2 separate regions of the Homo sapiens genome follow, and region 2 is linked to region 1. The links come from fine-mapping of genetic effects on gene expression. A gene starts in region 1. The other region holds a variant in brackets. All regions are shown on one strand. Distances are between the middles of the regions.

Region 1 (5,381 bases):
CACCCAGTCTGCCCTGGAGATAGCACGACTGACAGCAAAAAGAACTCTCTGCCAAGTCAGATTACAGCAATGACAACTGGACATTTCCCCCGAAAGGCCCATGGAGAATCACATTTTGTGGGTCTGTTGCAGGATGAGAGCCTTAGAGTGGGAAAAGGAAGAAATCACAGCCAGCCAGCAACTCCTAAAAGCTTTGCCTGTGAGGCTAGCGGAGACAAATCTGCCCACCTTGTTTGATGACATTGTTTAAGAATTCTCCTGCCTGTTTTCTTTTTCCAAACTGTTAACATTGCAGTTAATTACCTACAATTAATTACAATAACAAGAACTATCAAGGTTCCTACAACTGCAACCACATATGATCTTTATCTTGATAGAGTCAGACTCTCTCCTCCAAGCAACCTAGGAAAATTCCTTCCAAAGGAAGAACCTAGCCTCAGTTTAGCACCAGTTAACACCAGGCATTGGTCGCTGGATGCTAACATATATTAGCTACCTCATTTACTTCTCACAACCACATTAGATCATGGGGATTATTATCTCCCATCTTACCGATGAAGAAACTGAAAGTCAGAGAAGTAACTTGCTCAAGGATATAAATGAAGGAGATTGCACATTTTTCCATCAGGCCTATGTCCACTTGAACCAATGGGTGGAGTTACCACAGGAACTCTGGACAGGACTTGTGTGTAAATTACCCAACAGACCAACTGCATTCTAGTCAATCTGACTCTGAATTCCAGTCTTTGTCACTTCTTTTCTTTCTTCTACCTGGGGGTACAGTGTCTACAGCTTTGTTCCTTTAGTACTCAGACATGCTGACATACAGTGATGAAATTATTTATTTAATCATAAATTAACTACTGTGAAAAGCACTAATCAACCATGGTAAACCAGAGGCAATGTAATCTTGAGGAGAGGTTTAGATGCACTTTTATCAGAAGATCCAAGCTTTGAATCAAGTGAGAACCTTAGTAAGAGACAAGTGGTGGCCAAACCCCCCCCCTTAAACTCACAAGCTTGGGGAAAATAATAAACAAAGGTCAGTTAAGGAAGAACAATAGGGACCTCCAAACAGTAAGACAGAAATTAGCAACAAGAACTGGGCAGATTCTTAGTGGTGAGGAACGACTGTCTGTCTAAGGCAAAAATGATCTCAGCTTGTTTCAATTCATACCTTGGGAGAATTTACATGCATTTTGTATTTCTGGGTGGATGAACAGGAGCATAATTCCTAACAGATTATTCCCTTGCAAACATCTGCTAACTTAAATCTCAGAAAAACAGCTGATGTTGGAATCTAGAATGAAGTGTCTCGCAGATTTATTTCTTTTTCCAGTTTTTCCAGCTCATCCCAGCAGGCAGCTGGGCTTAAAAATGGTTTCCTTTCTCTGACAACAATATTGGCTAAAGAGTTTGACTATTGGGCTGTCAAGATACAGGCTGTGTGATCAGGATTAAGAAAACAAAAATGGATCCTAGAGGTAAAATTACTTTAAAAGCCAGGTCCTGGCAGAACAACTTCCTCGGTATATTTGCTATTAAAAGAAAAAGAGACAGAAAAAGCCAAAGAGGTCCAAAAAATTAAAAATCAGACCTGAAGTCACATTCTTGCAGCAATGAGGGAATTAATTCTTACTGTAACCAAAGGTCAGCAGGCAGCCAGTCCAGGTCTAAATGTAAACAAATTCTAAATGCACACTGCAAAGTCGTATTTAAAAGAGTGTTCAACAAAGAGCAAAGAAAATGGTAGACTTTTTCAGAGAAGAGAGGAAAACTGGAACGCACAGCTTCTGAATAGGGCAACAGAATTTGCCCTGAGGAACAGGTTTTCAGGGGGAAAGAAAAAAAAACTAGGGACACTTCACAGGTTTAGATCAAAATACAGGGAGGAAGAAAAGGAAAAATAAGAACTCTGAATCCAGTCTGCACTGGCCTCCTAGCCCCCGTTAAACGGGCTGAACAGATCTGCACCTTCGCGCTAAGTTTCAAAACAAAAGCCTTCACTCTACTTCTCTTTAGGTTGTTGTTGTTGTTTTAATCAGATCAAGTACGAGGACAAGCACAGGCTGGATTAATGATCAGAGAAACAAAAAGGATTAAATATCTGGCCTGGGAGAAGTTTATTGTGCAACTAGAATGTCAAAGTCATCTCTCTACTCTTCTGTCTCAAAAAAGCTTCTCCCTCTGGGGCAAACACTAGCGACAAGCCGTTCAGCTTGTATTTTTTCATTCAAATTCCGTGTTCAGATCCCTCAGGGGCCAGTGGTCTAAATGCCAAGAGAGAAAAATGGAGGGTTTCAACTCACCTCTTCAAGCGACTGTCTGGGGCTCTCCAAGCAGCAGCAGGCAGGCAGCTCTCATTCCTTGTGGGTGAACCGAGCAGCTCCTTGGGCCGCCGGAGTTGTGACCAGCCTCAACTTCGGTGAACAGGTGCCTGGAGGAAGGAGGACGGCATTGGTCGCTCCAGACCAGGAAATGGGTGACATCACGGAAGCCCCGACAGATAAAGCATTGCTGAGACCTTAGGGATTGAAAGAGTCAGGAGGCCCCGCCCACCTGTCATTTACCTGAATACCTGCAAGCAGGTAGGTGGCGTCTCTTTGTGGACAAATAAATCAGTTAGAGCAATTTGCCAGGTGGAATTTACTTTCTTTCCTGAGCACAGCACGTGTCCAGCCCCGTGTTCAGATCTGAAGTCAAATGCCTGGTTGTTTCCCAGGCCCTCCCCTTTCCCCATATCTGCCCACAAAGGAGTTAAAAGGGAAGTTTAAACACCAAAATGAGACAGTAATTTAGCAGACACAAAAAGGAAGAGTGTGAAGCCGAACTTCTTAGAAATATCTGAGGTGCCTTTTCGAACCGCATCCATTTGAACACCAAGTGTTTCTCTAATTCCAATAAAATGACAAATTTAAGTTGACATTTCCAATTCATCTTTTAAACAATTTGAAATAGGATACCTGTCAGCAGTTTCAAAGTGGTTTTCAAACACTTTTGCGCTACCCCCTCCCCCGCCCAGCATTTTTAATTCCATATTCAGGAATTTGCAAAACTTCAGTCATTCCTATCTCGGCTGGCTTGGCAGTTAGAGTCATACGGCAGTTACAGTGCACTGCAGGCCTGCAATTAGGAGCAATTTAAATGATTCAGATTGGAATGGTAGTACTGTCATTAGGCGATGTTGTCTGCTGATATAGCCAGGAAAGAGACGTCAGAGTTATTTCTGTCCCAAGCGTGGTGTGTGACCCTGGACAAGTCACTGGTTGCTTCACCTTTTCCAGCAGGAAAGGAGGCGTAAACTCATCCAGCACCAGAGCAGGCAGCTGGGAGGTATCCCAGGACTGTTAAACTCTCTGGCATCTTCCCAGGAGGGCTGTAAACATCTCCCATCATCCCATTGAAACGCTGCGTATTTTTACCACCTGCATCCAGCATCCCTGGAACTCATTACCTGAGGAAACTGTGGATTCCCCGTCCCGGAAGATGGCCTGCCTGCCCAGAGAGAATTTTTTTTCCCCTTCAGGAAAATAAATGTTGACATTCCTATTTTCCTCCTACTTTTGCCTCCCTCGTCTTCTTCTTTCCCTCCTCCTGATTTTGGGAATGCTTTTGTTCCACCGGTTTTAATATTGGACTACCTAGAGGTTTTGGGGTTTGGTTTGGGGGAGGGTGGAGGAAGAAGGAAAAATGGGAGAGGGAAGAAAAGGAAGTCCGGATTCCCACAGCCTGGGCCTCAGCTGGCTGCAGTCAGTCAATAGCTCGCAAAGCAAGGGGGAGGAGAAGGAAGAGAAATTGTAGTCGAGGGCGGGGTCTGGGGGCCGGCTCTGGTGCTCGACCTCAGGGGAGCTGGCTCCTGTCCCCGATCCGCCCCAGACAGGTCTAAGCTACCTCTTTGCACCTGGGAACTCTGTGCCTTTTGAGAGTTGAAGGCTTAAAACAACAACAACCACCACAACAAAACTATTCACCTTTTTATCCAATAGAAACTAAGGTAGGTGTGGCTATTCCTTTATTATTTAAAAGAAAAAAAGGGAGGTAACAAAACCTTTTACACTCAGGTGTTTCAGGAAAAGGTTTCACGCCACTAGTTTGATAATTGAGAAACATCACTCACACAAAGGCCCCCCTCTTCACGCGGACAGGGTGTCCCCTGGGCAAGGGGGAGGGGAGGGAGAGCCCGCCAACCTGATGAATCATCTAGAAGGCCACGCCTTCAGCGGTCTTGCCTTTGGCGAAGGGCAGGATCCAACTTGGGAGGGGATCACAGGCTTCGGTTCAAGGCCTTGGGTGGGCAGGGGAAGGGTGTAGGTGAAATGAATTCGCATAAAGCTTCACCGAACAGCCTGGAGATCGTGAGGTTTCACTTGCCATGTTCACATACACACAGTCATCTACATATGTGGTGTGATGAATTGTTGTAAAACAGAAAGAAAATAGAGAAATAAGAGTTAATCCAGGAGTGGAGCTAACTCCCAGGTATAGTGTATAAAGGAAGAGAAAAAACTACACAATTAGCCTTCTCAGGTGAGATCTTTCTTGGTACTCCTGGATTTCGAATAATATGCAGGGGTTAAAAAAAATAATATGGGCTTTTTTTTTGGGCCATTAGGGCTGTTACATTATCATGGAAATTATATTTCTAAACTACTAGAAAAAAATGTAATCATAAAAATGAACATTGTGTTTAACAGGTGCTACTTATTGTTCTGAGCACTTTATACAAGAACCCTGTGTCAGGTATCATTGCTATTTGCATTCTACAGCTGGGAAAACCAAGACATAGTGAATCTGAGAAACTGCCTAAGGACAAGCTCATCGGCAAGCGGCAGAGCAGTTTTTAATCAAGGCCCACTTTTTAACCACTGGAAAGAAAAGAGGGAAGGTTCTGATTTCATGCTCACTGGGACACTTCCTGGACACATTCAGCTTCTTACCCATTATTCAGAAGGAGAAGTAGAAACCTGTAGAAGTAGCCCTGGGGAGGGTAGTTTCTGATAAAGGATGTCTCCATTTGGAAATTAATTAGTAATCTGGTCTATATGCTGAAAGTGTGTGTATAATATATATATATATATGTATATATAAATATGTATATATTCATAAATTCATGCATATATTTATGAGAAATCATACCAGGAAATCCATCGCCCCTGGGTGCACACTTGAAATCATCTTTTGAGAGCTTATCAAATCAACCCCAAGATGGAAGGCCAGCTTGAGGGACCCCTCAAGAATGACCAGTTGTAACTCTCTATGACATCTTTTATGGTCATTTTTCTCTGTAACTTCTGCGGCCTATCACTTTAAAATCTGAAAATTTAATCCGAGTGGCCATAAGAACATGGAACTGCATACATTTGGAAAATATGAGACAATGA
Region 2 (5,381 bases), 43 kb before region 1:
TCCTGACCTCAAGTGATCCACCCACCTCAGCCTCCCAAAGTACTGAGATTACAGGCATGAGCCACTGCACTGGGCCAGAGGCCACATTTTTAATCAATACAAGCTAAAGCTTGTTAATGTTTCATGACTGAACTCTGCCCTGCCTCTCTGCTGCCATCCTTTGTATATGAAACTCTTAGAATTAGATAAAAATCCCTGGAAGAGCATATTCAGACATAAAGCCTTATTGCTGTCAAATGGACCCAGGCTGCACGTGTTCAAAATTGGTCGAGGAAATCCCATGTTACCATTCTGAGCAGGCCCAGGTGGTCAGACTCCATCAGAGGATGCTGCATTCATGATGGGTGCTGTGCAGGGTCACTTGCCACACTGTGTCACCTCTATGTCATTGCTTTGCCTAGAGCTGGTAGTTTAAAATTTTAACCACTAGCTCCAATTTTATTGCTTCCTCAGGACACATATCATAAAACGATGAATGCTTTACTCTTATTTCCAAAAAAATGTCATAACTTGTTCAAGGTCACATAGCTTGTTACTGGCAGGGCTGAGTCATTTGGGTAAATTATTAGGCCTTAGTTTCTTCATCTATAAAATAGGGGGATTAGACTAAATCATCTCCAAGCTCTCCTTCGGCTCTCAAAAATTTATGGTTCTGGGCCACAGACACCACCAGCCAAGCAACAAGCTGGATTCAGTCTTCCTCTTCAAACTGGGGAAGGAGGAAAATAGGAAAGAGGAGCTGCAGTGTGAGGGCAGCAAGGAGCTAAATAGCTGAGGAATGAAGGCTGGGGAGGGAGTCGGGGGCAGAGTCAAGAGACTGGCAGATGTGGTAAAGACCGAGCCACTTGTGGAGGCAGAGCTGTGTGGAAGGCGAGGCCTCAGCCACTGACAAGTAGCTCAGGCCTCTCTCCATGGAATTTCCCCTAAGCTAGTTACCCCTTTCTCAGCTCAAGTCAGCCATTTCCCTGCCTCTTCAGTGAGAGGGAGGAAGAGACTGTATGGTTACAGCAACTCCAGTTTCTTGATCTCAGTCCACCTGTGCTTACTGTGGATAAAGTTAGTTGTTACCAAATTATATCAAATCGAAGACTATGTCTATTGTGAGGCGCACCATTATTTTTACAGATAACCAAGAAAGATAGACACTGCAAATTATCTTTGCATGGCGTTATCAATTCTAAGATGGAATCTATTTACAGGAGACATTAAGAAGTATGTCTTAGAATTGATGAAATATATTCTAACTCCCTCCATTACTCATGATAAAATCCACAAGTTAAGGGTTTCCTATGTACCAGGCACTATATTAAATGCTTTACATAATCTCACAACAGCCTGTGAGGTAAGTGTTATTCCCATTTATAGGTGAGAAAAGCTCAGAGAAGGTAAGTAACCTGCCCAAGTTTGCCCAGCTAGAGGAGACTATATAGGAACTGGGGTCAGTCTGACTGCAGAGCATGTGCCTTGAATCACTAGGTCATCTCACCTTCAGCAGAGAGCTACTGGATTACAGTCCTTGGGATGACAAGTGGACTTGTTTCTGGGGTCCCTGACCTCTCCCTCCCCTACTGTTCTGGATAGAGCTGCTAACAAAGGAAGAAAGTCGGGAAGGGCTCACAGGTACATTCTTGGCTCATGGGGCAACCAGGAAGACAGCTCCAGCTCTGGGTATGCAAGAGTTAAACATGGGAGAAGTGGGCTTAGAAGGGCACCAGAATTCCCAGAGATGGCTTTACAGGAAAATATGAGAGAATAAGAAGAAGGAGTCAGAAAGAAAGGAAGGTGAATTTGGTACCTCAGAGCTCCCATGGAGGGGGATGATGACTGTAAGGCTGATGAATATGGTTCGGGGGTCCTGGCATGCATGTGCCTTTCCAAGAACCTGACAGGGACCTACCAGTTGTGAATTCACAATTTTACCTTCCTTTTTAAAAAGAGGACTCAAATTCTGAACATTTCAAGTTTCATAAACCTGGATCCTCCAGTTCCAATCTTGGTGGTAATGAAAGCAGGTGTGGTTGGGGGTGGTGGGCCTCAGAGAAAGCTGGAAGGGCGTGGGGCCACATGAGCACACAGAAGGAGTGATGGTTGAAAAAAAAAAAAAGTCGGGGGAAATATGACTATGAGAAAAGGATGTCTGCTTCCTTGGCCTGCCAAGTTTTATTTGGCCTGCAGAAGTAGACCATTTCCTGCCCCATTCCTTCCAAGACCAACTCCACAGACTGGCAGTGAGCAATTTTCCTCCATTTACTTTGAAGAAGTTGTTTTACCAATGAGCCCTGAAAGTGGGCAGATTGTCATAGAACTCTTAGGTATATTTTTTCTATTCTTTAACAATGTTTTTGTGCCTGTTTTATCATGGATGTATTAATGTAGTAGTATATGTATATAATTTTATATAGATAACTATACATAAGACAAGCAATGGAGAAATTTATTGATTGATATAGGTCTGTGATCAAGAAGTTGCAAGATTATTGCCCTGTGGAGATATTTCT[C/A]CAGTCTCTTAAAGTTCTCCCATTAGAATACTTATACACTGTTGGCAGGAGTGTAAATTAAATCAACCATTCTGGAAAGCAGTATGGCAATTCCTCAAAGAGCTAAAAGAAGAACTACCATCCCACCCAGCAATCCCATTACTGGGTATAAACCCAGAGGAATATAATTCATTCTACTATAAAGACATATGCACGCAAATGTTCTTTGCAGCAGTATTCACAATAGCAAAGATATGGAATCAAACTAAATGCCCATCAATGACAGTCTGGGTAATGAAAATGTGGTATAGATATACCATGGAATACTATGCAGCCATAAAAAAGAACAAGATCATGTCTTTCACAGGAACATGGACGGAGCTGGAGGCTACTATCCTTAGCAAACTAATGCAGGAACAGAAAACCAAATGCTGCATATCTAAGTGGGAGCTGAATGGTAAGAACTTCTGAACACACAGAAGGAAATGACCGACACTGGGGTCTACTTGAAGGTGGAGGGTAGGAGGAGGGAGAGGAACAGAAAGGATAACTATTGGGTACTGGGTTTAATACCTATGTGATGAAATAATATGTGCAAACCCCCATGACATGTATTTACCTATGTAACAAACCTTGACATGTACCCCCCAAATCTAAAATAAAAGTAAAAAAAATAAGTTCTCCCCTTAAAGCTTCTGGGCAACAAGGTCATAAAAGACACTCATCTTGGGTAAAATTGTAGTTACATTCATAGACTTCAATGCTCAATGTTTTGGACCTTTGCTTTCTTACATTTCTTTCAACTTGGACAGTAAATTAAAACCATTGTTCTATTTTTCTCTTTTTCAGTTACTAGCCCAGTATTTGGAATTTGCCAAAGCTATATTCCTCAGAATTTACTTCAAGAGCTCCTTTGTATCGGCGGAGAATGAAGAACGGAGAAGAGGAGGAGGAGGTTGAAAGAAACTTAAGAGATGTGGCAACTAATTGCAACGTGTAGATTGTATTTAGCTCATGATTCACACAAACTAGATATTTGTTATTAAAGAATTATGGTTGTTTTTGGTGTGATATTAGTATTGTGCTCACATTTCTTAAGAATCTATCTTTAGAGATAGGTGCTGAAATTCTTGCAGATGAAATGACATTATCATCTGAGATGTGCTTCAAAAACAGTTAAAGGAGATATCGATAAGATGGCCTTGAATTCACAATTGCTGAAGATGGGTATAGGCCACATGGAGTTTTATTATAATCTTTTCTCTCCTTTTATATTGTTTGTAGTTTTCCATTATAAGTTAAAATGAAGAAAATAAGTCAACCAACATGAAGCGGTCAGTGAGATTCTTACGGACATCCCAGCTTTGCCTCTTATCCGCCTGACATAGTCATGGAACTAGAAAGACAAGCACAATTTGCCAAGCATCAGAGTGGCATCTTGAAACTGCTGGGTTTTGTTTAGGGTGGCCTCCCTAGGAGGAGAACACTTTGGACCAGGGAGTGAACAGCTTGGAACTGGAGTGGCTTTACTGCTGGCAAAAAAGAATTTGCTAATTCTCAAAGGGGGGAAAAAATAAAATCATGAAACAGGATCACAATGCTCTTTGGACATCAAAGAATCATTACAAAACAAGATTTTGGTGAGTTCAATGTAAATGAATGAGGGCCATGCGGCTTCAATTTCCTTCAAAATACACAAGTTTAAAAATTCAAGGAAAAATGCCCTGTTAAACATGTGCTGAACTGAAATGCTTCGAGAGTCATTGAGCCCAAATGGGCCCTGGCTTTGCCCCAAGACTGGATCTTGTTCCTGTTGGAATATGATTTCTCCAACATACCCCATTTCCTCTGTAAACTCTACCTCCTTCCTTCCAGGTCCTCGTCCAAATTCTACTTCAGATGCTCAAAACACAGGACAAGACAAATCCAGGGATCAGCAACACTTTTTTTTCCCCTTTTCAATTTTGATAAGAAAGAAACAAATTCTTGGAGACTCAATTTGGAAAACATTTGCTGGCAAATCCATAAAGCTCACCCTGTTGGTTTGAACTTTGAAAGTGTTGGGAATGGCTAACACAGTGAAAATGAAGTGGGGAGGAAATGGATGCTAAGGCAATCCACTGTATTCCACTCACTCCCGACTCATTCACCCCAGAAAAAATCCAACCATAATCATCTGGACCTTCCTGTGTGGATCTCCATTAGTATAAAGCTTTTTTAAAAAGGCACTTCCCCAGGTCCTGGAGTTCATGGCCCAATACCTGGCCCAGGTCTGACTGAAGTTAGTAGGCAGGAAAAGGAGCTACTAAGGGTGGTCTTGCCACACAGCCTTCACCTAGAGAAGGGGATACTGAAAAGCCAGACCAGGGCGTAATGGATAGATGGAAATAGATACAGAAAATGGAGGCAAGCAACCTCCCCACTTGAAAGCCTGGAACGCCCAGCTGGGTTTGATTTAAAGCTCTCTTTGGGCCTGTGAGCCCCAAAATGAATGTTCTTGTTGCATGAAGTCTGTGCAGTTTGTCAGAGGTGTATGTCGCAGGTTAGGTTAGAGTCAGTTAACCTAGGAGGCGGTTGGTGGTTGGAATCCTTGGTTCTAAGAGCTTGGTGTGTTCTGTGGCTCTGACTCCTGGGGCCTACCACATTTTGCAGGAAGGGCATACATAAGGCTGCCCATAACTCTTACCGCTTTTGGCAGTTTCTCCCCGAGGCCTCATCCTTCTGTTACAGTAGGTAGTTAGACAGACATGAGGCAGGGAAGGCCACCCTCCCCACAATGAGGAATGTCAGGCAACCATCAGGTGATGGTCAGGCAGTTGTTAATTGTCTCTCTAAAATAATCATTGGTTGAAGCCAGGGCCAGGCAGTTTCCCAATAAATAGAAAACACCTGAAACTGGTGATC

Direction of the effects. Alleles are on the strand shown, and positions count from the first base shown. SD is a standard deviation of normalised expression in the study named.
With allele C in place of A in region 2, the expression in aorta of the gene that starts at base 2,408 in region 1 is higher (moderate effect, 0.49 SD a copy in GTEx).

The links. PIP is the estimated chance that this variant, and not a neighbour inherited with it, causes the effect.
Region 2: its variant is the best candidate, but not a certain one, in a credible set for the expression of LNX1 in aorta (GTEx, PIP 0.52).

What each region holds. Positions count from the first base shown.
Region 1 is chr4:53,589,079-53,594,459 of GRCh38, forward strand. It overlaps LNX1 (ligand of numb-protein X 1), which reads right to left and starts at 2,408. Exons shown (of 11, transcript NM_001126328.3): 1 at 2,310-2,408. It overlaps LNX1-AS2 (LNX1 antisense RNA 2), which reads left to right and starts at 3,878. Exons shown (of 2, transcript NR_046827.1): 1 at 3,878-3,994. RefSeq lists an enhancer at 3,588-4,500.
Region 2 is chr4:53,546,031-53,551,411 of GRCh38, forward strand. The region is part of intron 2 of LNX1 (ligand of numb-protein X 1); the gene reads right to left. Among named protein-coding and RNA genes, the nearest start is that of LNX1, 43 kb to the right of the region's middle. The variant C/A (reference allele first, on the strand shown) is at 2,499.